Regions from separate parts of the Homo sapiens genome. Here region 1 is linked to region 2. Evidence: fine-mapped expression QTL. A gene starts in region 2. The other region holds a variant in brackets. All regions are shown on one strand. Distances are between the middles of the regions.

What was found. PIP is the estimated chance that this variant, and not a neighbour inherited with it, causes the effect.
Region 1: its variant is the best candidate, but not a certain one, in a credible set for the expression of TPST1 in whole blood (TOPMed, PIP 0.69).

What each region holds. Positions count from the first base shown.
Region 1 is chr7:66,541,611-66,554,085 of GRCh38, forward strand. It overlaps the pseudogene LOC100420547 and the pseudogene RABGEF1P1. Among named protein-coding and RNA genes, the nearest start is that of LINC03011, 54 kb to the left of the region's middle. The variant G/C (reference allele first, on the strand shown) is at 6,136.
Region 2 is chr7:66,198,382-66,210,856 of GRCh38, forward strand. It overlaps TPST1 (tyrosylprotein sulfotransferase 1), which reads left to right and starts at 6,953. Exons shown (of 6, transcript NM_003596.4): 1 at 6,953-7,141. RefSeq lists silencers at 6,576-6,845, 6,996-7,355.

The DNA of each region.
Region 1 (12,475 bases), 340 kb after region 2:
TCCATGAGATAGGGACACGGGAGGAGGACGTTGTCTGGAATGGCTGATATTTGCGGTGTCTTTGGGTACCCAGGGGGGCTGGTGGGCTGTGCCTGAAGACAGATGCAGCAACTCAGAGATGTGTAGAGATTCCTGAGTGTAGGTGTGGACGGACCAGGCCAGGGACCTGCAGGGTTTGGGAGGACCTGAGGGGGTGGGTGTTGGAGCCCTGGGAAAAGGAAGAACCAGGCCAAGCAGGTGCCCAGCCTCTGTCCTGTGGGAAGCTCCCTGCTCTTTGGGCAGCCCCCACATTGAGAATGGGGCCTCCATTCTGGCAGCTTGTGCACGGGAGGCCAAGCGACCCAGATAGGGTCTGCAGACTCCAAGCAGCACAGAGCACCAGCCCAGGAGATGCAGTTCCCAAGGCAGCCTCCTAAACAGAAGTGAGCTCTTCCCAGAGTTTTCAAGATTAAAAGAGCCAGGCACAGTGACTCACAACTGTAATCCCAGCACTTTCGGAGGCTGAAGCAGGAGGATCACTTGAGCCTAGGAGTTCAAGAATAGCCTGTGCAACAGAGAGAGATTCTCTCTACAAAAAATTTTAAAAAAACTTAGTCTGGCACGGTGATTCATGCCTGGAGCCCCAGCTACTAGAGAGGCTGAGTGGGGAGGACTGCTTGAGCCAAAGAGTTCAAGGCTGCAGTAAGTCATGACGGCACCACTATACTCCAACCTGGGAAACAGGGTGAAACCCTGTCTCAAAAAACAGGAGCCAGGCTGGGCACCATGGCTCACGCCTGTAATCCCAGAACTTTGGGAGGCCGAGGTGGGCAGATCACCTGAGCTCAGGAGTTCAAGACCAGCCTGGCCAACATGGCAAAACCCCATCTCTACTAAAAATACAAAAATTAACCGGATGTGGTGGCAGGCGCCTGTAGTCCCAGCTCTCAGGAGGCTGATGCACGAGAATGGCTTGAACCTGAGAGGCAGAGGTTGCAGTGAACCGAGACTGCGCCACTGCACTCCAGACTGGGCAACAGAGTGAGACTGTGTCTTGGAAAAACAAAGAGAAAAAAAAAAGGAGTCATTTTGTTCCAACGACTCATCAGTCTGCTCTGCCCTGCCTCATCCGGCCCTAGCTCCCTGCCTGCTTCTAGCTTCACCCCCCTCAACATCTCACCCTTACCCAACCTGCCTGCCCCAGAGGCCCAGCCCATGTGAACCCATGCTTCTCAGAGAGATTTCCTGTTGGACATGCAAACCAGCCTTCCTGCAATCCCAGCCCCATCCTCAACCCTGGCACAAACCCACAGGCTGCTGCAGAGCTCTGCCCCAGACCCCATCTCCAGCCCAACCACCCCTCAGCCTTACAGCCCAGCTCAGGCCCCGTCTCCAGGGCTAACTGACCCCAGCAGCAACTCTAGGCTACAGGGAGGGGAGAGCGGAGCACGCCGGGGCTCAAGCAGCAGATAAGCCGTGACAGTTGCCAGGGCAGTGAGCAGGGAGAATGCATAGCCCCCACACTCCCAGACACAGTCTGTTTCCCATTCACAGACCTTGGCCAGCGAGCAGTCAGGGGATTTCCAACAGCCCAGCACAGTGACACCGGCCCCTGTGCACGGACCCCGCTAGGCCCATCAGTTGTCTCCCCTGTACCACCCCCAAGTTCAGCCACTTCCAGGACAAGGGATCTTTCTTTTTTTTTCTTTTCTTTTTTTTGTTTTTTGGAGACGGAGTTTCGCTCGTCACCCAGGCTGGAGTGTAATGGCGTGATTTCGGCTCACTGCAACCTCTGCCTTCCGGGTTCAAGCAGTTCTCCTGTCTCAACCTCTTGAGTAGTTGGGATTACAGGTGCCCGCCACCACACTCGGCTAATTGCTGTATTTTTAGTAGAGATGGGGTTTTGCCATGTTGGCCAGGGTGATCTGCCCGTCTCAGCCTCCCACAGTGCTGGGATTACAGGCGTGAGCCGCCACACCTGGCCAGCATAGGATCTTTCACCCTTGAGTGCCTGTGCATGGCTGGTCCTTCTGCCCCGGTGTCTTCACACTGCCACTCCATCCTTCACAAACTCCTACCTGCCTTTTCAGAGCCCATTTTTTTTGTTGTTGTTTTCATTTTTATTTGAGACAGGTCTCTGTCTCCCAGGCTGCAGTGCAGTGACATGATCTCTGCTCACTGCAACCTCCACCTCCCAGGCTCAGGCGATTCTCCTGCCTCACCCTCCCGAGTAGCTGGGACTACAGGTGCCTGCCACCACGCCCAGCTAATCTTTTTGTATTTTTAGTAGAGACGGGGTTTCACCATGTTGGCCAGGCTGGTTTTGAACCCTTGGCCTCAAGTGATCTGCCTGCCTCTGCCTCCCAAAGTGCTGGGATTATAGGCATGAGCCACCAATGTCAGGCCTTGAGAGCCCATTCAAGCATCCTGCTCTCCTGGGGGAGGTCTCCCCAGACTTGCCCAGACAGGATGGGCATCCTCATTCATGCCCCTTGTCTCCTAAGTGTGTCTGTTGTACTTTGGTGACCAGGTGACACCCCCTCTGGCTGGGAGACCCTCAGGGGAGCAGCCCTGCCTCTTTAGGTTGTTTTGTGCCCAACACAGGGCCTATGCTGGGGACACTGATAAGAAAATGTCGGATGGGCTGGCCACCGTGGCTCACACCTGTAATTCCCGAACTTTGGGAGGCCAAGACGAGGATCGCTTGAGGCCAGGAGTTCAAGATCAGCCTGGGCAACATAGTGAGACTCCATCTCTACCAAAAATTTAAAAAATTAGGTATGGTGGCACACATCTGTATTCCCAACCACTCAGGAGGCTGAGGCAGTATGGATCACTTGAGCCTGGTATTTGGAGGCTGCCGTGAACTATCTGATTGCACCGCTGCCTTCCAGCCTGGGTGACAGAGCAAAACCATGTCTCAAAGAAAGAAAAATGGATGGATGGACAGACCAACAACTGGGGCTAGAAACCAGCTACAGCCAGGCACAGTGGCTCACGCCTGTAATCCCAACACTTTGGGAGGCCAAGGCGGGTGGATCACCTGAGCCCAAGAGTTTGAGACCAGCCTGAGCAACATGATGAAAACCCGTCTCTACTAAAAAATACAAAAATTAGCTAGGCATGGTGGTGCGGTGCCTGTGATTCCAGCTACTTGGGGGGCTGACGCAGGAGAATCACTTGAACCTGGGAGGTGGAGGTTGCAGTAAGCTGAGATCGCGCCTCTGCACTCCAGCATGGGCAACAGAGCGAGACTCTGTCTCAAAAAATAAATTAATTAATTAATTAAATAAAATAAATACGTAACTAAACAAACAAACAGCTGCATGGGAGTAGGCAGGGCCTGCAGAGAATGTTTTGGCAGGTCAGGGATGCCTGGTGGGAGAAGCAGCAGGTCTGGTGGCCAAGCCAGTGCCAACTCTCAGGCCCCCTTGTCTTCCTCTTTAGATGAAGATGATACCAACAGACTTGGGGAGGTGATCCTGCAGGAGCAGGTGAAGGAACTCTTCAACGAGAAATACAGTCAGTGTCTGTGGTCAGGGTCAGCACACCAAGCCCTCCTCCCGGGGAAAGGGGGAGGCCCTCCCTCCCTCTGCAGCCAGCCTAGCCTTCAGGAGCCCCCAGCTGGCCTGCCTGCTCCCTGGGGACATGGCTGCTCTGCCCATGACCCACATTTTGTGTATGTTGATTTTCTTTTTTTTTTTTTAAACAGCGTCTCACTCTGTTGCCCAGGCTGGAGTACAGTGGTGCAATGTCTGCTCACTGCAGCCTCCACCTCATGGGCTTAGGCAATCCTCCTGCCCCAGCCTCTCAAGTAGCTGGGACTACAAGCGTGCGCCACCACTCCCGGCTAATTTTTCTATTTTTAGTAGAGACGAGGTTTCACCATGTTGCCCAGACTGGTCTTGATCTTCTGGGCTCAAGCGATCCACCCGCCTTGGCCTCCCAAAGTGCTGGGATCGCAGGTGTGAGCCACCACCTGACATCCCTTTCCGGAACCCCAACACGTACGACATCCACTGGCTGGAGAAGATCCTGAAGGCCCGAAAGCATGTCCACATGGTCATCATTAGCCAGCTGCAGTGAGTGCCCAGCCTCTGGAACGGGGAACAGAGAGGGCAAGACCATGGGGAGGGTGAAAGTCAAGGTCATGGTGGGTCAGCTGGGATCCAGACCCAGGTGTACTACAATAGTTCCTGCCTCTTTCTCCTGAAACATACAACTTCAACACTTATGGACATTTACTTATTTTTAAAGATTTTTTTTTTTTTAGATATTATATTTGTTCTCTGGGGAAGAAACAAAAACATGTTTTAATTAAATTTGACTGTTTCTGACTATACAATTCTGATTTTTAACATTTAAATATAAATACGTTTGTATTTAAATATCAATGTTTAAATATAAATATGAATATTTATTATATTTTTTAAAATAATTATAATTCCATAGTCTCAGTGATTACCTTTTTTTCTTTTTTTTTGAGACAGGGTCTTGCTCTGTCACCGAGGCTGGAGTGCAGTGGCACGATCTCAGCTCACTGCAACCTTCACCTCCTGGCTTCAACCCATTCTCATGCCTCAGCCTCCCAAGTAGCTGGGATTACAGGTGTGCACCACCACCCTGGCTAATTTTTGTATTTTTTGGTAGAGATGGAGTTTCACCATGTTGGCCAGGCTGGTCTCGAGCTCCTGACCTGAAGTGATCTGCCTGCCTCAGCCTCCCAAAGTGCTGGGATTACAGGTGTGAGCCACTGCACCCAGCCTCCGTTATTACTACTATACCATATATCCTTACAGTCTTTTGGGTTTTGGTTTTTGTTTTGAGACAGGGTATCACTCTGTTGCCCAGGCAGGAGTACAGAGGTATGATCCTGACCCACTGCAGCCTCAACAGGGTCTCACTGTGTTGCCCAGGCTGGTCTTAAACTCTTAAGCTCAAGTGATCCTCCCACCTTGGCTTCCCAAAGTGCTGGGGTTACAGTCGTGAGCCACCACACCCAAACTGTGTGGCCCAGTCTTTTTTTTTTTTTTAATACAATAGATGATTCGCTTATTTTCAGAACAATACACAAAACAACCTGGAAAATATGAAAAGATAGAAGAAAAGAAGATAGCTGTAAGTCTCCTACTGAAAGTCAACACTTTGATGCATTTCTTTATATTTTTAAATTATTATTTTATTAATATATTATTACTTTATTTTTGAGATGGAGTCTCATTCTGTCGCACAGGCTGGAGTACAGTGGCGTGATCTCAGCTCACTGCAACCTCCACCTCCCAGGTTCAAGAATTCTCCTGTCTCAGCATCCTGAGTAGCTGGGACTACAGGTACATGCCACCACGCGTGGCCAATTTTTTTAAAATATTTTTAGTAGAGACGGGGTTTCACCATATTGGTCAGGCTGGTCTCGAACTCCTGACCTCAGGTGATCCACCCGCCTCGGCCTCCCAAAGTGCTGGGATTACAGGCATGAGTCACCACGCCCAGACGTTTGTTTTTTTTTTTTTTTTTATTGCACAGGTTAGTCTCAAACTCCTGGGCTCAAGCCATCCTCCCACATCGGCCTTTCTTTTTTTTTTTTTTAAGATGGAGTTTGCTTTAGTTGCCCAGGCTGGAGTGCAAAGGCACGATCTTGGCTCACTGCAACCTCTACCTCCCAGGTTCAAGCAATTCTCCTGCCTCAGCCTCCTGAGTAGCTGGGATTACAAGCATGCGCCACCACCCAAGCTAATTTTGTATTTTTAAGAGACGGGGTTTCTCCACGTTGGTCAGGCTGGTCTCGAACTCCCAACATCAGGTGATCTGTCTGCCTCAGCCTCCCAAAGTGCTGGGATTACAAGCTTGAGCCACTGCGCCCAGCCCGCCTTCAATGTTATATTACATGTATTGTTTCTTTGTTTTTTTGAGATGAGGTCTTGCTCTATCACCCAGACTGGAGTGCAGTGGCACCATCTTGGCTCACTGCAACCTCTTCCTCCGGCATTCAAGTGATTCTTGTGCCTCAGCCTCCCAAATAGCTGGGATCACATGTGCCTGCCCCCACACCCGGCTAATTTGTGTATTTTTGTAGAGACAGGGTTTCACCATGTTGGCCAGGCTGGTCTCGAACTCCTGACCTTAAGTGATCCGCCTGCCTTGGCCTCCCAAAGTGCT[G/C]GGATTACAAACATGAGCCACTGTGCTGACCTGCATGTTTTTTTAAATTAAGATAATATTTGCATGTGTCAAAAAAACCCAAATTGTTCAAAATCAAAAAGTGGAGGTTTCCCTTTCTCCCACAGATAGTTCACCCCCCCGAAGTAACAACTAGAAAATGCAGGAAAACGGCCAGGTGTGGTGGCTCACGCCTGTAATCCCAGCTACTCAGGAGGCTAAGGCAGGACAATCGCTTGAACCTGGGAGGTGGAGGTTGCAGTGAGCTGAGACCATGCCATAGCACAACAGCCTGGGCAACAGAGCAAGACTCCATCTCAAAAAAAAAAAAAATTAATTAATTAAAAAATAAATTAGACGGGCATGGTGGTGTGCACCTGCATTCCCAACTACTGGGAAGCTGAGGCAGAAGGACTGATTGAGCCCAGAACTTTGAGGCTGCCGTGAGCTAGGATGGCACCACTGAACTCCAGCCTGGGCAAAAGAGTAAGACTGTCTCAAAAATAGTAATTGATAATAATGCTGTGATGACTATCCACTTGCATAAATCTGGGCACACGTTTCTGATCCCTTGGTCAGACAATATCCTCGCTTTATAGATGAGGACAGCAGACCTGGAGGAATGATTTGCCAGCCCAGGTCCATCGTCCAGGGCCTATATGGGGAATGCTCTGTCGGGACGGTGTGTTCCCCATTTTTATTTCGGTGTTACCAGGCTCCTGCAGCAGCAGCAGCACCACATCTCAGAGGGCAGGTGAGAAGGAGGGGAAAACGGCCAAACGCAATGGCTCATGCCTGTAATCCCAGCACTTTGGGAGGCGGAGGCAGGCAGATCACCTGAGGTCAGGAGTTCAAGACCAGCCTGGCCAACACGGCGAAACCCCGTATCTACTAAAAATATAAAACTTAGCTGGGCGTGGTGGCGGGCACCTGTAGTCCCAGCTACTCAGGAGGCTGAGGCAGGAGAATGGTGTGAACCCAGGAGGTGGAGGCTGCCGTCAGCCAAAATTGTGCCACTGCACTTCGGCCTGGGTGACCAAGCGAGACTCCATCTCAAAAAAAAAAAAAAAAAAAAAAAAAAGGAGGGGAAAACCTCATTTTCTAACTGCCACCTCTTTTCTTTCTTTTTCAGACCCTTTGCAGAAATCTGCAATGATGCCAAGGTGCCAGGTGAGTCGGAGGCAAGGAAGCCACCCTTCTGCCCTGTGGGGACTAGACTGTTCCTTTTGAAAAAAAGGTAGAGCCGGGTGCAGTGGCTCACGCCTATAATCCCAGCACTTTGGGAGGCAAGCAGATCACTTAAGGTCAGGAGTTCAAGACCAGCCTGAGCAACATGGTGAAACCCTATCTCTACTAAAAATACAACAATTAGCTGGGCGTGGTTGTGGGCACCTGCAATCCCAGCTACTTGGGGGACTGAGGCAGGAGAATTGCTGAACCCGGAAGGCGGAGGTTGCAGTGAACTGAGATCACACCCCTGCACTCCAGCCTGGGAGACAGAGCAAGACTCCATCTCAAAAAAAAAATGAAAAAGACAGAGACACCAGGAGTTGGAGGCTGCAGTGAGCTATGATTGTACCACTGCACTCCAGCCTGAGCAACAGAGCAAGACCCTGTCTCTAAAAAAAAAATTTTAATAAATTTTTTAAAGGCAGAGATAGATGTGGTCCAGGTGGGCATGCAATAGATGGCTTACCACCTTGAAAAAAATATAGCCCCTCTCCACCCTGGTGCCTCCCCAGGGAGCCTGAGGTCTCCATGAACAAGGACAGGTATCCCCAAGAGGCCCCCCGAAACCTGCAGGTGCCCTACAGAGGGAAGGCCCTGCCATAGCACCAATGAGTGTATGAGGTCAGCTAGAAGGACAAGAGGCAGGCTGGGCCTCAGGGAGGATCATGGGGGCCTCCTGGGTAGCAGAGGGGTAGCATGTGACTGACAGGGGTGAGGCAGGCGGGCACTGCCAGAGACTGGCTGGACCCCCTCCGTTCTGCTGGCATCTGCAGGGTATACAGAACCTTTCACCAGGCACCTGGGGGCCACCTGGCATGATGGTTCCGATTAAGGTGTATGATAGGACTTGGGAGAAATTACTCACGGGTGACTATGATGTGCACCCGATTAAGAAACACTGTATCCCAGCACTTTGGGAGGCCAAGGCAGGCAGATCACTTGAGAACAGGAGTTCGAGCCCAGACTGACCAACATGGTGAAACCCTGTCTCAACTAAAAATAGAAAAATTAGGGCCAGGCACGGTGGCTCACCCATGTAATCCCAGCACTTTGGGAGGCCAAGGTGGGCGGATCACCTGAGGTCAGGAGTTGGAGACCAGCCTGGTCAACATGGCAAAACCCCATCTCTACTGAAAATACAAAAATTAGCCAGGCATGGTGATGCATGCCTGTAATCCCAGCTACTAGGCGGGCTGAGACAGGAGGATCACTTGAACTTGGGAGGCAGAGGTTGCAGTGAGCCAAGACTGTACCACTGCACTCCAGCCTGGGAAACAGAACAAGACTCTGTCTCAAAAAAAAAAAAAAAAAAAGAAAAAGAAAAATTAGCCGGCATGGTGGCGCACGCCTGTAGTCCTAGCTACTTGGGCGTTTGAGGTGGGAGGATGGCTTCAGCCCAGGAGGCAGAGGTTGCAGTGAGTCGAGATCACACCACTGCACTCCAAGCTGGATGACAGAGCAGGACTCTGTCTCAAAAAGAAAAAGAAAAAGAAACACTGATTGGCCAGGTGTGGTGGCTCACGTCTCTAATCCCAGCAGTTTGGGAGGCCTAAGTGGGAGGATTGCTTGAGTCCCGGAGTTTGAGACAAACCTGGGCAACATAATGAGACCGTGTCTCTACAAAAAGTTTTTTCTCCCATCCAACTACTAACCAGGCCCAACCCTGCTTCCCTTCTGAGATCAGGCAAGATCAGGCGCATTCAGGGTGGTATGGCCATAGACCAAAAAGTTTTTTCTAAAAATTAGCCAGGCGTGGTAGTAGGCACTTGTAGTCCCAGCTACACAGGAGGCTGAGGCCGGAGGATCACCTGAGCCCCAGAGTTTACGGCTGCAGTGAGCTATGATTATGCCACTGTACTCCTGCCTGGATGACAGAATGAGACCTCATCTCTTCTTTTTTTTCCCCCCAAGACAGAGTCTCGCTCTGTTGCCCAGGCTGGAGTGCAGTGGCACGATCTCGGCTCACTGCAACCTCTGCCTCCTGGGTTCAACTGATTCTCCTGCCTCAGCTTCCCAAGCAGCTGGGATTACATGCACCTGCCACCACGCCCAGCTGTTTTTTCTATTTTTAGTAGAGACAGGGTTTCCCCATGTTGGCCAGGCTGGTCTCGAACTCCTGACCTCATGATCCACCCACCCTGGCTCCCCAAAGTGCTGAGATTACAGGTGTGAGCCACTGCTCCCGGCCTTCTTTTTTTTTCCCAAGACAGAGACTCGCTCTGTCGCTCAGGCTGGAGTCAATCTTGCAATCTTGACTTACTGCAACCTCCACCTCCTGAGTTCAAGCGATTCTCATGCCTTAGCCTCCCGAGTAGCTGAGACTTCAGGCATGCACCACCACACCCAGCTAATTCTTTGTATTTTTAGTAGAGGCGAGGTTTCACCATGTTGGCCAGGCTGGTCTCAAACTCCTGACCTCAAGTGATCCTCCCACCCCAGCATCCCAAAGTGCTGGGATTACAGGTGGGAGCCACTGTGCCTGGCTGAGACCCCATCTCCTAAGAAATAAAAAAGAAGAAGAAAGAAAAAATATTGATCTAATCTTACCCCACCTCATTGTACAGCTGGGAAGCTGAGGTGCAGAGATGCCAGGGACTTGCCCAGGCCACAAAGTGAGTCAGACGCTGTGCAGACCGTGCTGTCAGGACCATCCATCTGAACCACCACAGGGCCCAGTATGGCTGCTCAGCAGGGACAGTGATAGGATTCAGCAAGGCCACGCCACAACCTGGCCTGAGACCCTAGGCCCTGACTCCTGTCAGGACCAGGTTCACCTGGAACTCCACAGCCTGGGGTGGCATAGCCCAGCTAGAAGCCACCTCCTTCCACCAAGAGCTGATCACAAACCTGGGCCATGTAGTGAGACTGCCCCCGTCTCTGCAAAAAAATTAAAAATTAGTCAGGCGTGGTGGCGCGTACCTATTGTCCCAGCTACTCAAGAGGATGAGGCAGGAGGAGTGCTTGAGGCCGGCAGGTGGAGGCTGCAGTGAGCTATGATTGCGCCACTGTGCTCCAGCCTGGGCAACCGGGTGAGACACTGTTTCCCAAAAAAAAAGAGCCAGTTACAAGGGTCAGGCCTGGCACTGAACATACAGATCTGGAGGCGACCTGGTTTGCTCTCAGGTCAAAGGCAGAGACAGGCCGGGCGCGGTGGCTCACGCCTGTAATCCCAACGCTTTGGGAGGCTGAGGCAGGGAGGTGGGTGGATCACCTGAGGTCAGGAGTTCGAGACCAGCCTGGCCAACATGGTGAAGCCCCGTCTCTACTAAAATCCAAAAAAAAAAGATTAGCCGGGGTTGGTAGTGGGCGCCTGTAATCTCAGCCACTCAGGAGGCTGAGGCAGGAGAATCAGTTGAACCCAGGAAGTGGAGGTTGCAATGAGCCGAGATCATGCTACTCTACTCCAGCCTGGGGAACAAAGCCAGGCTCTGTCTCAAAAAAAAAAAAAAAAAAAAAAGAGCAAACAAAAAACAAAAAACATGGCAGAGACACAGAAGGCCACATAAATGCCTCAGGAAGATTTGGGACAGATGCCCAGAGGGTGGGCACTGTCACCCACATCCACCACTCCCTCCAATATGGCCATCTCTCATGGTGACTCAAGGATGGCCACAGCCCATGGACCAGTCTGAGACAGAGGGTGGGGCAGCATCTGACTTCTTTTTCATGTTGAATATCCCACAAAAATCCCTCTGACTCATAGCCTGGGCTCCTCCTGCCTCCAGGGTCTTCTCTTTCCCAGGGTCTCTATGCCACATCACAGACACCTAGTTTCTGACTTTTCTCCACCAATTGAAGAGACATTTGCCCCGTGGACCGAGCCTGCCCTTACTCTGTGTCATTAAGACCCTTCTGGTGGGCTGAGTGCAGTGGCTCACGCCTGTAATCCCAGCACTTTGGGAGGCTGAAGCAGGAGAATTCTTTGAGCCCAGGAGTTCAAGACCAGACTGGGCAACATAGACTCCGTCTCTACAAAAAATTAGCCAGGCAGGGTGGTGTGCACCTGTAGTCCCAGCTACTCAGGAGGCTGAGGCAGGAGGATCGCTTGAGCTTGGGAGATGGAGGCTGCAGTGAGCCAAGACCACACCACTGCACCCCAGCATGGGTGACAGAGTGAGACCGTGTCTCAAAAAAGACAAAAAAAGCCCTTCTTTATCGGGCTGGGCGAGGTTTCCATGCAGTAACCCATCCAATCAGGATGTGCTGCTCAAAGTCTTACATCTTCACCTCAAGGAAATTCAGCAACCGCAAAACACCTGCTGACTCCTGCCGAGATCCCGCCACTGCACTACAGCCTGGGTGACAGAGCTAGACTCCGTCTCCAAAAAAAAGCATTCTTTTTTTTTTTTTTTAAAGAAATGATCAATTAAAAAACCTTTAATGCTCAGTTTTCACAAACACAATCAAGTCTATCAAATTTCCGGATTTACAGCAAAATGTGCCAGCTAAAAAGGTGTACATTCTTCAGTTTCTCCTATACTTTTTTTTTTTTTTGTGCCTATCTTTCAAAACTGAGCACTGGGTATTTTTAACATAAGCCATGTCATATGTACATTTTAACTATGTTTCAGGAATAAATGAAATCCATGATATGAATTTTCAGTAACTCATAGTGTATTTATAAAATGAAAAGTTCTCTATCAAAATACACTTTTCACTGGGAAAAATAAATAAAATAGACAAATGGACCTACACAAAGTAAACATTAACTTTGGTAGATTTCAGTGTAGTTCATAACAAGGATATTTGCCCTTATTCCCCCAGAGCTGCTCAACTACCAAGAATTTTTTAAATATTTTTAACTGAGATTTTATTATGTTAACATTTGTTTCTCATTCCACATCATCTTCAGCCAAGCTCTGAGCACTTAGAATTCTCTAATTGTTGGGAGCTTAGTCAAAAGCATCTGGAACACTAGTGGTGGAAGAGTTTGCTGTAAGGCCTGCAGTAACTGCTGTGGCTGTCCACACACAGCAATTCCGTTTGTCAGATGGTCTACGCCCTTCTCATATTCACCTTGAGCTAGTAACTCTTCACCAAGCTGTATTTCTTCAAGGAAGAACTTCTGAACAGCTTCAGCATCTTTAAGGTCAGGTAACTTGGAAAGCCCAGC
Region 2 (12,475 bases):
GAGGCTGGTGTTTACTTTACTAAGCTATGCAGGTAGTTTAGATGCATGGTGAGGTTTAGAAAACATTCCTGGAAGCCTTACAATCTCCTTGGTCATAAGTAAAACTAGAGGATGCTTTGCTCTCAGCCTGGAACACAGCACAGCTGTCTGTCTGGGTTTCCCTATGGAGCAGTGGACATTTCCTGAATCTGGGGTCTGCAGAGCACATGGTGGCAGCTCCCGGGTTCAGGAAGCCCAGTTGGTCGGCTCCAGCCTGGGCATGTGGCCCTCTCTCCCTGGCAGGAGTTGCATGAAGAGGTATTTTTGGAAGGTGCAGGAATTCTGTAGCCACTTGGAAAATGCCTGCTCATAGGCTGGGCTGAATTTTCATTTTCAAATGATGATGTGGCTGAGGGGCCTGACCTGCCCAGTTTTCCAGGATCTAGGGGTGGAGAAAGTCAGGAGTCCTGCTCACATTTTTCTTTTTCTTTAAATTGTATCACCCTTTTCTTTCTGCCTTAAATCCCTGTATCCCAGAAGCTTCAAGAGAACTGTGAGGTGCTTCCCGCAGGCCATTGACTCTCTGATGCTGTATGCAGGTAAGTGTTTCATCTCATCCCAAATTAGCCAGGGCTTTTAGGTCACTTTAGGTGGAGTGAAAGCTTAACTCTCAGTTCTCCGTCAAAGATCTTTGGCTCTGGAGTCCTCTCCTGGAGTCTCCCTGGCCTTTCCTGGCAGGACCCTGAGTGACCCAAGTGTCCTCCTGTTCTCCCTGGGTCCCGGCTCCTGGCTCCCGTGCCCTGCTGGCCTTCTTTGACAATTGCAGTGTTTGCTGTTCATCTAGCCATTCATTACCTGTCCATCCGTCCATCCAAACATCCATCCAGTGCCAGGCCAGTTGCTGCTGGTTGTGACAGACACATTCATCTCCTTCTTTTTTTTTTTTTTTTTTGAGATGGAATCTTGCTCTGTCTCCCAGGCTGGAGTGCAGTGGTGCAATCTCAGCTCACTGCAACCGCCACCTCCTGGGTTCAAGTGATTCTCCTGCCTCAGCCTCCCGAGTAGCTGGGATTACAGGTGCCCACCACCACACCCAGCTAATTTTTGTATTTTTAGTAGAGATGGGGTTTCACCATGTTGGCCAGGCTGGTCTCGAACTTCTGACCTCAAGTGATCTGATCGCCTCGCTTCTTGAAATTCTGGGATTACAGTCGTGAGCCACTGCACCTGGCCTCAAATTTTTCATTTCTGAGGGACTCCCCATCTCTGCCATTTCCCACCTCTGCCACCATCTTCCCTCCGTGCCAGACCCGAGAATGAAAATGCCATGAAGAGAGCTTTGCTGCATTTGTGTCCCTTTTTTTTTTTTCTGAGACAGAGTCTCGCTCTGTCGCCCAGGCTGGAGTGCAGGGGCACTATCTCGGTTCACTGCAGCCTCTGCCTCCTGGGTTCAAGGAATCTGACTGCCTCAGCCTCCTGAGTTACTGGGACTACCGCCGCGCGGCACCATGCCCGGCTAATTGTTGTATTTTTAGAGAGGAGGTTTCACCATGCTGGCCAGAGGTTTCACCATGCTGGCCAGGATGGTCTTGATCTCCTCACCTCGTGATCTGCCCGCTTCGGCCTCCCAAAGTGCTGGGATTACAGGCATGAGCCACTGCGCGGGGCCTGTGTCCTTCTTAAGAGCAAAGCAATCCAACAACCCCCAAAGGAAAAGTGCTGGAGGACAATGCTGCCTTTTCAGTTCTCAAAGCCTGCACATTCCTAGGTATGTTGCATAGACTTTCCCTCCAGGAGGTGAGGTTGCTGTAGTAAGGAGTCCTCACTCATCCTTGGCCAGGTCTTCTCTAGAGGTGAGTTCCCAAGGTAGAAGCGGTGCAAAGGCTGACCTAGAGGAGAGAGACTCGCAGCTCTCACTGGGATGGCAGCAAGCACTGGCCCATTTTCTCCTCTTCTGGGCTCTGCCAGGGTTGCGTAGGCTGTTTGGAAGAAAACAGGCTGTGAGCCCTTTGAATTGCCTGAAGATGGGGCAAAGCCATCTATACACAGGTGAAGTTATCTTTTTTTTTTTTTTTTTGAGATGGAGTTTCGCTCTGTCACCCAGGCTGGAGTGCAGTGGCGCAATCTCGGCTCACTGCAAGCTCCGCCTCCGGGATTCACGCCATTCTCCTGCCTCAGCCTCCCGGGTAGCTGGAACTACAGGCGCCCGCCAGCACACCCGGCTAATTTTTTTGTATTTTTAGTAGAGACGGGGTTTCACCGTGTTAGCCAGGGTGGTCTTGATCTCCTGACCTCATGATCCATCCGCTTCGGCCTCCCAAAGTGCTGGGATTGCAGGCGTGAGCCACCGCGCCCGACCGAGGTTATCTTTTTTTAATTTTTTTGAGACAGAGATTTGCGCTGTCGCTCAGGCTGGAGTGCAGTTGCACAGTCTCCGCTCACCGCAGCCTCCACATCCTGAGTTCAAGCGATTCTCCTGCCTCAGCCTCCCGAGTTGCTGGGATTACAGGTGTGCCCCCACCACACCTGGCTAATTTTTGTGTTTTTAGTAGAGATTGGGTTTTACCATGTTGACCAGGCTGGTCTCGAACTACTGATCTCAAGTGATCTGCCCTCCTCAGACTCCCAAAGTGCTGGCATTACAGGTGTGAGCCACCATACCTGGCTGATGCTCTCTGGTGAGGTGATCTAATTCTGGGCTGATCACCTGGAAAGGTAAAGCCCGGGAGAGAAAATAGAAACGCAGAAAGAGTGTTCAGAATCTATGAGGCTCATTAAATTACACAGAGGAATAGAAATGTGGTGTGAATCAGATGTGCATACAGTCTTGGACAGTTTTTCAGGAACAAGTTTTCCTTTAAAAAAAAGTTATGTATTCATTCCTTGTAAATAGGTAATCCAGGCCAGGCGTGATGGCTCATGCCTATAATCCCACCACTTTGGGAGGCCAGCGTTGGAGGACTGCTTGAGCCCAGGAGTTCAAGACCAGTTTGGGCAACATAGCAAGATCCCATCTCTACCAAAAAAAAAAAAAAAAAAAAAGTAAAAGGCTGGGCACGGTGGCTTACACCTGAAATCCCAGCACTTTGGGAGGCCAAGGTGGGCAGATCACATGAGGCCAGGAGTTCGAGACCAGCCTGGCCAACATGGTGAAACCCTGTCTCTACTAAAAATACAAAAATTAGCTGGGCGTGGTGGTGGGCACCTGTAATCCCAGCTACTCGAGAGGCTGATGCAGGAGAATTGCTTGAACCTGGGAGGCAGAGGTTGCAGTCAGCCGATATCATGCCACTGCACACCAGCCTGGGCAACAGAGCGAGACTCTGTCTAAAAAAAAAAAAATTAGCAGGGAGTGGGTGGCGTGCACCCGTAGTCTTAGCTACTCAGGAGGCTGAGGTGGGAGGATCACTTGAGCCCAGGCGTTTGAGGCTGCAGTGAGCTATGACTATGCCACTGTACTCCAGCCTGGGTGACAGAATGGGACCCTGCCTATTAAAATAAGAAAAAAAAAAAAAAAAGGTAATCCAAGCATATAGCACATAATTTTTAAAGGTGCCCAAGAGTACATAGCAAAGAATTAGTCTCTTTCCTATTCCTGTGCCCAAGTCCTTCAGTTTCCCTCCCAGAGACAACACTGTTACCAATTTAATGTGTGCATCTTTCTTGATATTTCCTCTGAAAATAACAAGTGTGTGTGTATGTGTATTTTAAATATATACAAATGGGTATATTATACACACTGTTTTGAACTTTGTTCTTTTCACTTGAGTATATTTTGGAGTTTTTTTTCCTTCTAGCACATATACTATATGTGTTGGGGCAGATTTAGAAAGCAGGAAAAGTTCATCTTGTTCTCAATAACCCTGAGCTTTGCTTCAGATCAAGCTGTTTCTTACTTCTGCCTCAGAGGCTGGACCCTGTCAGAGGCTGGACCCTGCTTCTTACTTCTGCCTCAGAGTGTAGTCCCCGGATCACCTGAAGCTGTCCTGCTCAGTGAGACATCCTGCCGTATGACAGGTTTCACTGAAAGGATCGTGTCCTTTCTTCTTACTGAATTCCCCACATCTAGAATTCGTTCTCACAGTTTAATACGTGCTAGGAGGACCAGTGTCAGCTCCCTATGTGGCTACTCAATTCTTTTTCTAGGTCTTATAGGTGGGGGAAGGATTTTCTGGGCAGTGTGGGAGGTTATCTCAGATCTCCATCTCTACTTTGTGGAAAGAGCCTGGCAGGGGCTGTGCACCGGTGGTGGCTTCCGTATTACTGAGGCCATGGTGAGTCCTTTTCCTGAAGAGGTCTGAAATGTAGAAAGCAGAATGTAACTTGGCCCTTGCTTAACATTAAAAGACTGGTTAGAGGATCGCTTGAGGTCAGAAGTTCGAGACTAGCTTGGGCAACATAGTGAGACCCTGTCTCTAAAAACAAAACAAAAGGTGGGCGCGGTGGCTCACACCTGTAATCCCGTCACTTTGGAAGGTGGAGCCGGGCAGATCATCTGAGGTCAGGAGTTTGAGACCAGCCCGGCCAACATGGCAAAACCCTGTCTCTAATAAAACTACAAAAAAATTAGCTGGGCATGGTGGCAGGCGCCTGTAATCCCAGCTACTGGGGAGGCTGAGGCTGAAGAATCACTTGAACTCGGGAGGCGGAGGTTGTAGTGAGCCAAGGTCATACATACCATTGCACTCCAGCCTGGGCAACAAGAGCGAAACTCCATCTCAAAACAAAAACAAACAAACAACAAAATTGCTGTCTACCATCTTATAGTCAGTTTTCTTATCTATCTCTGTGTGTGTGTGTGTATACACCCACACACATATATACACACACACACATATACACACAAACACACACACACACACACATATATATAATTATTATTTTTTTTTTTGGGTGAGAGGCAAGGTCTCAGTCTGTCACCCAGGCTGGAGTGCAGTGGTGCCATCATGGCTCACTGCAGCCTAGAACTCCTGGGCTCACGGGACCCTCCTGCCTGGGTTTCCCAAACTGCTGGGATTACAGGCGTGAGCCACCACACCCAGTCAGCTGATTATCTGTAGAAGGAGATATCATATGTACCTTAGACAGTTGCTGTAAAGATCAAATGAGGTCCACACAAAAACTTCTTTTTTTTTTTTTTTTTGAGACGGAGTCTCACTCTGTTGCCCAGGCTGGAGTGCAGTGGCACAATCTTGGCTCACTGCAACCTCCACCTCCCGGGTTCACGCCATTCTCCTGCCTCTGCCTCCCGAGTAGCTGGGACTACAGGCGCCAGCCACCATGCCTGGCTAAATTTTTGTATTTTTAGTAGAGACGGGGTTTCACCGTGTTAACCAGGATGGTCTCGATCTCCTGACCTTGTGATCCGCCCACCTCGGCCTCTCAAACTGCTGGGATTACAGGCGTGAGCCACTGCACCCGGCCACACACAAAAACTTCTACACAAATGTTCATAGCAGCATCATGTATAATAGCCAAAAAAGTAGAAACAGATGTCCATCAATGGATTAATGGATAAATAAAAGATGATGTCCAGCCAGGCACGGTGGCCCATGCCTGTAATCCCAGCACTTTGGGAGGCCAAGGCAGGCAGATCACTTGAGGCCAGGAGTTCAAGATCAGCCTGGGCAACTTGATGAAACCCCGTCTCTACTAAAAATATAAAAATTAGCCAGGCATGGTGGCACATGCATGTAATTCTAGCTACTTTGGAGGCGGAGGCATGAGAATCACTTGAGCCCAGGAGGTGGAGGTTGCAGTGAGCCAAGATCACATAACTCCACTCCAGCCTGGGAGACAGAGTGAGACTCTTCAAAAAAAAAAAAGGTGATGTCTGTATAATGGACTATTATTCGGCCGTAACAAGGAATGAAGTGCCGATACATGCTACAACATGGATGAACTTTGAAAATATTATACTGTGTGCAAAGGAAGGTAGTTACCTTCCCGGGTTCAAGCAATTCTCCTGCCACAGCCTCCCCAGTAGCTGGGACGACAGGCGTCCGCCACCATGCCCGGCTAATTTTTGTATTTTTAGCAGGGACGGGGTTTCACTATGTTGGCCAGGCTGGTCTCGAACTCCTGACCTCAGGTGATTCACCAGCTTTGGCTTCCCAAAGTGCTGTGATTAGAGGCATGAGCCACCCCACCTGGCCTAGCAGAGAGCAATTTTGAATACAGCTGTTAGATTCTGCACTCATGCCTTCTCTAATCCATGTCACTGGAGTAGAAATAATTGCTTTGACAGAACCTGGTGTAGATGTGTCTGTAGGAAGAAACTGTAAAATGAATGGATCATTTTGTGAAATATCTGCCCTTTCCCCACCTTTCTTTTGCTTCTTTGCCTTTTTCTCCCTAGTTTTCATTTCTTTCTTTTAGGGCGTCAGCCCCCCACCTCTGTGGTTGGGAGGGACTATTGCACGTCTACACTCTCGTGGGGATGAAATAGTGTTTGAGTTCGTTATTTGCATTTGCGCGTTATCTCCCCGAGGAGATGACAGCTTCTCTGCCAGCAGCGGGCAAAGGTGGGCTCTGAAGCAGAGGAGAGGAATTATCAGGAAAAGCTCATTTTCTTCTCCTGTCCTAGGGTTTCACTGATGAAGGCCTCTGGGACACCCACGTTGGGGGTGGGGGCGGTGAGGACCGCCACCTGCCCGCGGCTCCCCTGCAGCCAGGCCACGCGCGCTGTTGCTAGGGCAACCACCCGGCCAGGCCTGCGGCTGCCGGGAAGCCCCCTCGGGAGCGCGCACGGGAAGGGCTGTGGGGGCGCTGGCCGGCTGCGACGTCAGACCCCCGCCCCTCGGCGCCTGCCGGACCCAGCTCCATTCCCAGCCGCGCCTCCTTCGGTGGGCAGCCGGCCGGAACTCACGAATCAGAGCAGCCGACACATCGTCCGCTCAGCCAATCGTAGCAGATGTGTGATCCCGCCACCTCCCCGGACCCTGGCGGTTGTCGCTGAGTTGGCGACCGCGGGAGACGCTGCTGAGGCGGCTTCGGTTGCGGGTCGGAACGGCGCTGCTCTGCGGGGCCGGTCCAGGCTGGCAGCTGCCGGCGCTTGGCGGTGAGGGCGGGCTCCCGAGTGGCCCCCCACCGAAGGCGGTGGGACCAGCGGCTGAGGCCAGGATGCCGTCCAGGCGGCGCGGCGGCTCCTCACTCATCCCAGGTAAGGGGGACGCGGCGCTCGCTGCGGCTCCGCTCCCCTCTCGTCTCCTCACACCCGGCCCTGTGCCCCGTCCTGGCATCCCTTGGCCCCTTGTCGCCTTCTGCTCGGTGCCTCCCGGTTGTCCAACCCCGCCCCCGAGCGCGGAGCCCCGGGTCTGGCCCGTCCGGCCCCTGCTCCCACGCCCCTTCCCCCATCGCCGGCATTTCCCGGGCTCGGCTTCGCCCCGGCCGCCGGGGCCTCTCCCCTCTGCCCTTTCTCTCCCTTCTCGCAGCCCTGGGACCACGTCCTAGCCCCGCAGTCCCCTGGGATGAGACCCTCGTCTCGCCGGGATCGGACATTTGCCCCCACGTCTACCCCGGCTGCGCTTCTTGAGCTCATCGCCCCATCATCCTACCCGTTGTACGTAGTCCTGTCTGCATGGCAGTCGCCCGCCCCGCTCCAGGTGTCCCTGGGTCTTGCCCTTTTGCTCCTAAGCACCTTCCTTTCCCAACTCGCCTCTTCTCCCCTCACTTTGACCACCCACCATCGCAATCTCCTCTTCCTTCTCTTACTCTTAAACCTCCAGACACTTTCCCACTCTCTGCAATGCCGGATTCATCGCTTTTTTTTTTTTTTTTTTTGAGAGATGGAGTCTCTATGTTGCCCAGGCTGGCTTCGAACTCCTGACCTCAAGCTATCCTTCTGCCTCGGCCTCCAAAGTGCTGGGATTACAGGCGTGAGCCACTGCGCCTGGCTCAGATCCATAGTGTAATATCTTCATTCGTCCTTACATGAGCTGCACCCCATAACATGTAAAGTCCCTTGCCCAGAGTCTAGCACACAGTAGGCCTGGCACATGGTGGGTGGTCACGCATGTTAGCCTCTTCCTCCTTCCAGGCGTTTTGTACTTTCCAGATGATGGTAGCAAGAAGTCCAGTGTCCACAGGGATTTGACTCTGCCTGAAGAATGGTATGGGAGATGGCAGGAGAAATTGGTGAACTCCAGTAAAGCGATTAAATGGTCAATTACTGCATTCATTAAGAAGAAACAATTCTGCTATCCGTGCCATGTATTGTTTTATGTTAATTGCCTTTGTAAAGGATTCTTAGGCTGCTAGTCAGCAGGCTTTGCGGTGTAATTACTCCCCATCCCCTCTCCATCCCCATCTGCAGTGTTTGGGTAACTTTCTTTTTAGGAAAGAAAGAGCCCCTACCTCCCAGCTAAAGTGGCATAGTATATAAGCAATGTGGTACGTGTTTATCTATTAGCTGGATAGTCCAGGGAGCTGCAATGAATTTTCATCTTTTAAGATCCAGGAGGAATCAGGATTTGGATTTCCTGGAATCAGCTGCTGTACAGACCAAATATGCTTAAGAATGAAACTTCTGACAAGTCCTCTAAGAGTGAGAGAGGAATTATCCACCCCTCTCCCTCCCCCTCTCCAAACACTCGCTCTTGGAGGAAATAGCGAGTCGATTTTTAAAAAAGAGTAAAATACGTTTGACTTTTTAAAATGATAAAAGCATTGTCATTGGCCCTGTACTATTCTTGCCACCTTTGCTCTGATGGTCTCAAGCCTGGACGAATCAGTCAGCTTTTTCTGCTCCTGGGCTCCCAAGGCAGACTGGCAAAAATCATATAACTAAACTGCTGGGTGCTGTTTCTGCACTTCTGGATCCTGGAGATCCTTTGACTTAACCTCTAGATTCCTCTTATGTCCTAAAATCTAAATGGCTGTTTATGGATCTTTACCATTTTTCTCTGACTCTTTGTCCTACTCTTGCCTTCTCTTCATTGCTTATTTTGCCACTTAACTTCACAGAATAAATTGGTGGGCATCAGCCCTGAACTCTTAAGGAGAGGTCATTTTTGTCTGTGCCTGTCTGTACCTGATTTCTAATATCCTTTCCTCTGATCTCAGAAGAAGAGGGGTCTTACTTTCGAAAGCTAACGTCTTTGATCTCTTCCCATATTATTATTTTTTCTGTTGGATGGTATACATCCTCAGGTTTCCACCATTCAGACCAAAACAAAGCTTTTCTTGATGCTTCCCTTTTCTTTTTTTATTCTTCTCAGATTAACGTGGCATTCCTTAGGGTTTCATTTTTGTTCTTTTCTCTAATTTCCTTGTGTGATTACACTTCCTTTCATGGCTTCAAATAGCACCTATATATTTATGGTTTTCAAAGACGTCTATTTAGTCCCCGTTTCTCTTGAACCTCAGGTTCTAATTTTCATCTGCCTACTGCATAGCTGTATGTGGATGCTTGATTACTTCAAATGTGGTTACCTTTTCCTTCCCTTTCTCTCCACCCATAGCCCCCTTTAAGCACATATACAAACATTACTATTTTAAGATCTTTACTCTAGAAACCTTAAAATCATCTTCTTTTCTCCTCACATTAAGTCTAGCATAGATCCTATTGTTGTTGCTACCTCAGATCTTTTTTTTTCCTCTCTTCATAACATCTTTTTTTTTTCTCTCTCTTCATTGCCAGAAGACTGGTTCAGACCTTGGTTATGCTTTTTCTGAACCTCTGGGTCCTGTAGTCTACTTAATCCTCCACGTTGCTGCTGGAATTGGTTCCATTTCTGAACTATCAATCTGATCATGCTGCTTGTTTTCTTTAAAAATTCTCATCAGCTCCCAAACCCTTAGCATGTTGAGCCAGTCCTTCCAAGCCTTCTGTAGCATGGGCGCATCCCCTTCCTGGGCCCTTTGTGATCCAGAGAAAAAAGCAGTAAAGAAACAGACCATTCACTACCGTAAAATCAAGACTGTGACAGAGATGACTACAGGGTGCTCTGGGAGCATCACCCTGGTGAGAGTGAGGACAAGTTTCTGTCTACAGGCACCTAGGACTTTTTCTGACTACCCCTCCTCCTTAGTTTGGGTTAGGTGACTTTTCTTTGTGTTTCCACAGCACCCTGTACATACTTCCATCTCCATTTTTACCACTTATACCATTTTTAGTTTTTTTTTTGTGACACAGTCTTGGTCTGTTGCCCAGGCTGGAGTGCAGTGGTAACATCTTAGTTCGCTGCAACCTCTGCCTCCAGGGTTTGAGTGATTCTCGTACCTCAGCCTTCCGAGTAGCTGGGATTACAGGCGCCTGCCACCACACCCAGCTAATTTTTGTATTTTTAGTAGAGACAGGGTTTCATCATGTTGGACAGGCTGGTCTCAAACTCCTGACCTCAAGCAGTCTGCCTGCCTCAGCCTCCCAAAGTGCTGGGATTACAGGCGTGAGCCACTGTGCCCAGCCCATTTTTACTATTTATAATGTTCTGTTTTCTTATTTTTCTCACTGACTTGAGAGTGAACCCTTTAAGAGAAAGAGTTGTGTCATATCTCATTGTATCTCCAGTTTCTAGCAAATTGCCAAGTACATAGTGCTCAGTAAACTAAGTTTTCAGAAGAGCTGAATCTAGACAAGGAAAGGTAAGGGGAGATGGGCAGTTTGGAAGAGAAGGTAACATATGGAAAAGTGTGTCTTAGGCTAGGCGCGGTGGCTCACGCCTGTAATCCCAGCATTTTGGGAGACTGAGGCAGACGGATCAAGACCATCAAGACCAGCCCGGCCACATGGTGAAACCCCATCTCTACTAAAAATACAAAAATTAGCCGGGCGTGGTGGTGGGCGCCTGTAATCCCAGCTACTCAGGAGGCTGAGGCAGGAGAATCGCTTGAACCTGGGAGGCAGAGGTTACAGTGAGCTGACTCCAGCCTGGGCAGCAGAGTGAGACTCCATCTCAAAATTAAAGAAAAAAGAAAAATGTGTGATAACCTGGTGCTTTTGGGAAAGAACTGGTAATTTGGAAAGGCTGGAGAATGGGCATAATGAGCAATGAGGCTGGGAAGGTATATGGGAGCCGCTCATGAATGACCTTGTGTGTCCTAACACATAATCCTGATGATAGCGAGGAACCTTTGAAGGATTTCTTCCTGGGCAGATCTTACAAAGTCTGGCTTGTTCCCATCTCAGGCTTTGTGTCTTGCTGCATGCCTTGCCTTTTGCCTCAGCCATATAAAATCACCTCTATTACCTGAACATGCCTAAATGGCTTTATGTTTCTCTTTCTCCGTGGAATGCGTTTTCCCACTTAGCCACCTGTAGATTATACAGGCTTCTGGTTATCTCTGCAGTAAAGCATTCCCACATCTGCCTGCAATCCATGTCTCTTCATCTCTACTGTCATTTACTTGTTTACATGTCTTTCTCTACTCTAAGGGTAGGGCTTTGAAATCAGGATGGGTTTTGATTCATGTCTGCATCCCCTACTCTGGCAGGTAACATGAATGAGTATTGTGACCAGGTATATTTTGATTATGTTTATTTATTTTTCTAGAGATGGGAGTCTTGCTATGTTGCCCAGATTGGTCTTGAACTCCTGGCTTCAGGTAACCCTCTGCCTTGACTTCCCAAAGTGTTGGGATTATGGGTGTGAGTCACTGCGCCTGGCCCCAGGTGTATTTTCAGAAAAATTACTCTGATCTCTGGTAGCATTGTAGAGAACAGGTTAGAGAGGGGCAAGACTAGGTGCACAAAGACCAATAGGTGGTCATTATAGGAATGTAGGTGAAAGATAATGAGGCCAGTGAGGCTAAGGGGTTAGATTTGGGAGTGAATTTGTGGAGTAAGGAGAACTGGTTAGGTGTATAGGTGAGAGAGAGGGAGAAGGAAGGGTCAAGGATGACATACTGAGTTCAGGCTTGGGTGTCTGGGTAATGGTGGTTCTGTTCATCCAGGTAGGAAATACAGGAAAATAAACAAATTTTGAGGGAAAAGGAGGAAGCCAATGATAACATCTTGATGCCCAGGAAATCGCCTGAGAGAGCAGTTGGCCCTAAAGATGGAGATATATATGGAGGGTCTGTGCTAGAATTGAAAGTGAAGTCATCAGAAGTAGGTGAGATTGCCTGGTTCAGTGATTTTCAACATAGGCACTACTTAAAAACCACCTGGGGAGCTTTTAAAGAATGAGGATGGGGGATCGAGGCATCCACAGGGATTCTGTATCATTTGGTCTGGTGCAGGGCCAGACCTTGTTACTTTAAAGATGCTTCCCATGAGATGGTGATAGGTATCTAGGACTGAGAACTGGGCTGAGAGCCCAAAGAGGGAGTGATAGAACCCTGAAGAACAATAGTAGTAACTCATCCTTTAAATATCAGGACAGCTGGGTGTGGTGGCTCACACCTGTAATCCCAGAGTTTGGGCAGATTGAGGTGGGAGGATTGCTTGAGACCAGGAGTTTGAGATCAGCCTGGGCAACATAGCAAGATCCCTGTCTCTACAAAATAGGAAAAAACTAGCCAGGCACATGTGATGGCACATGCCTGTAGTTCCAGC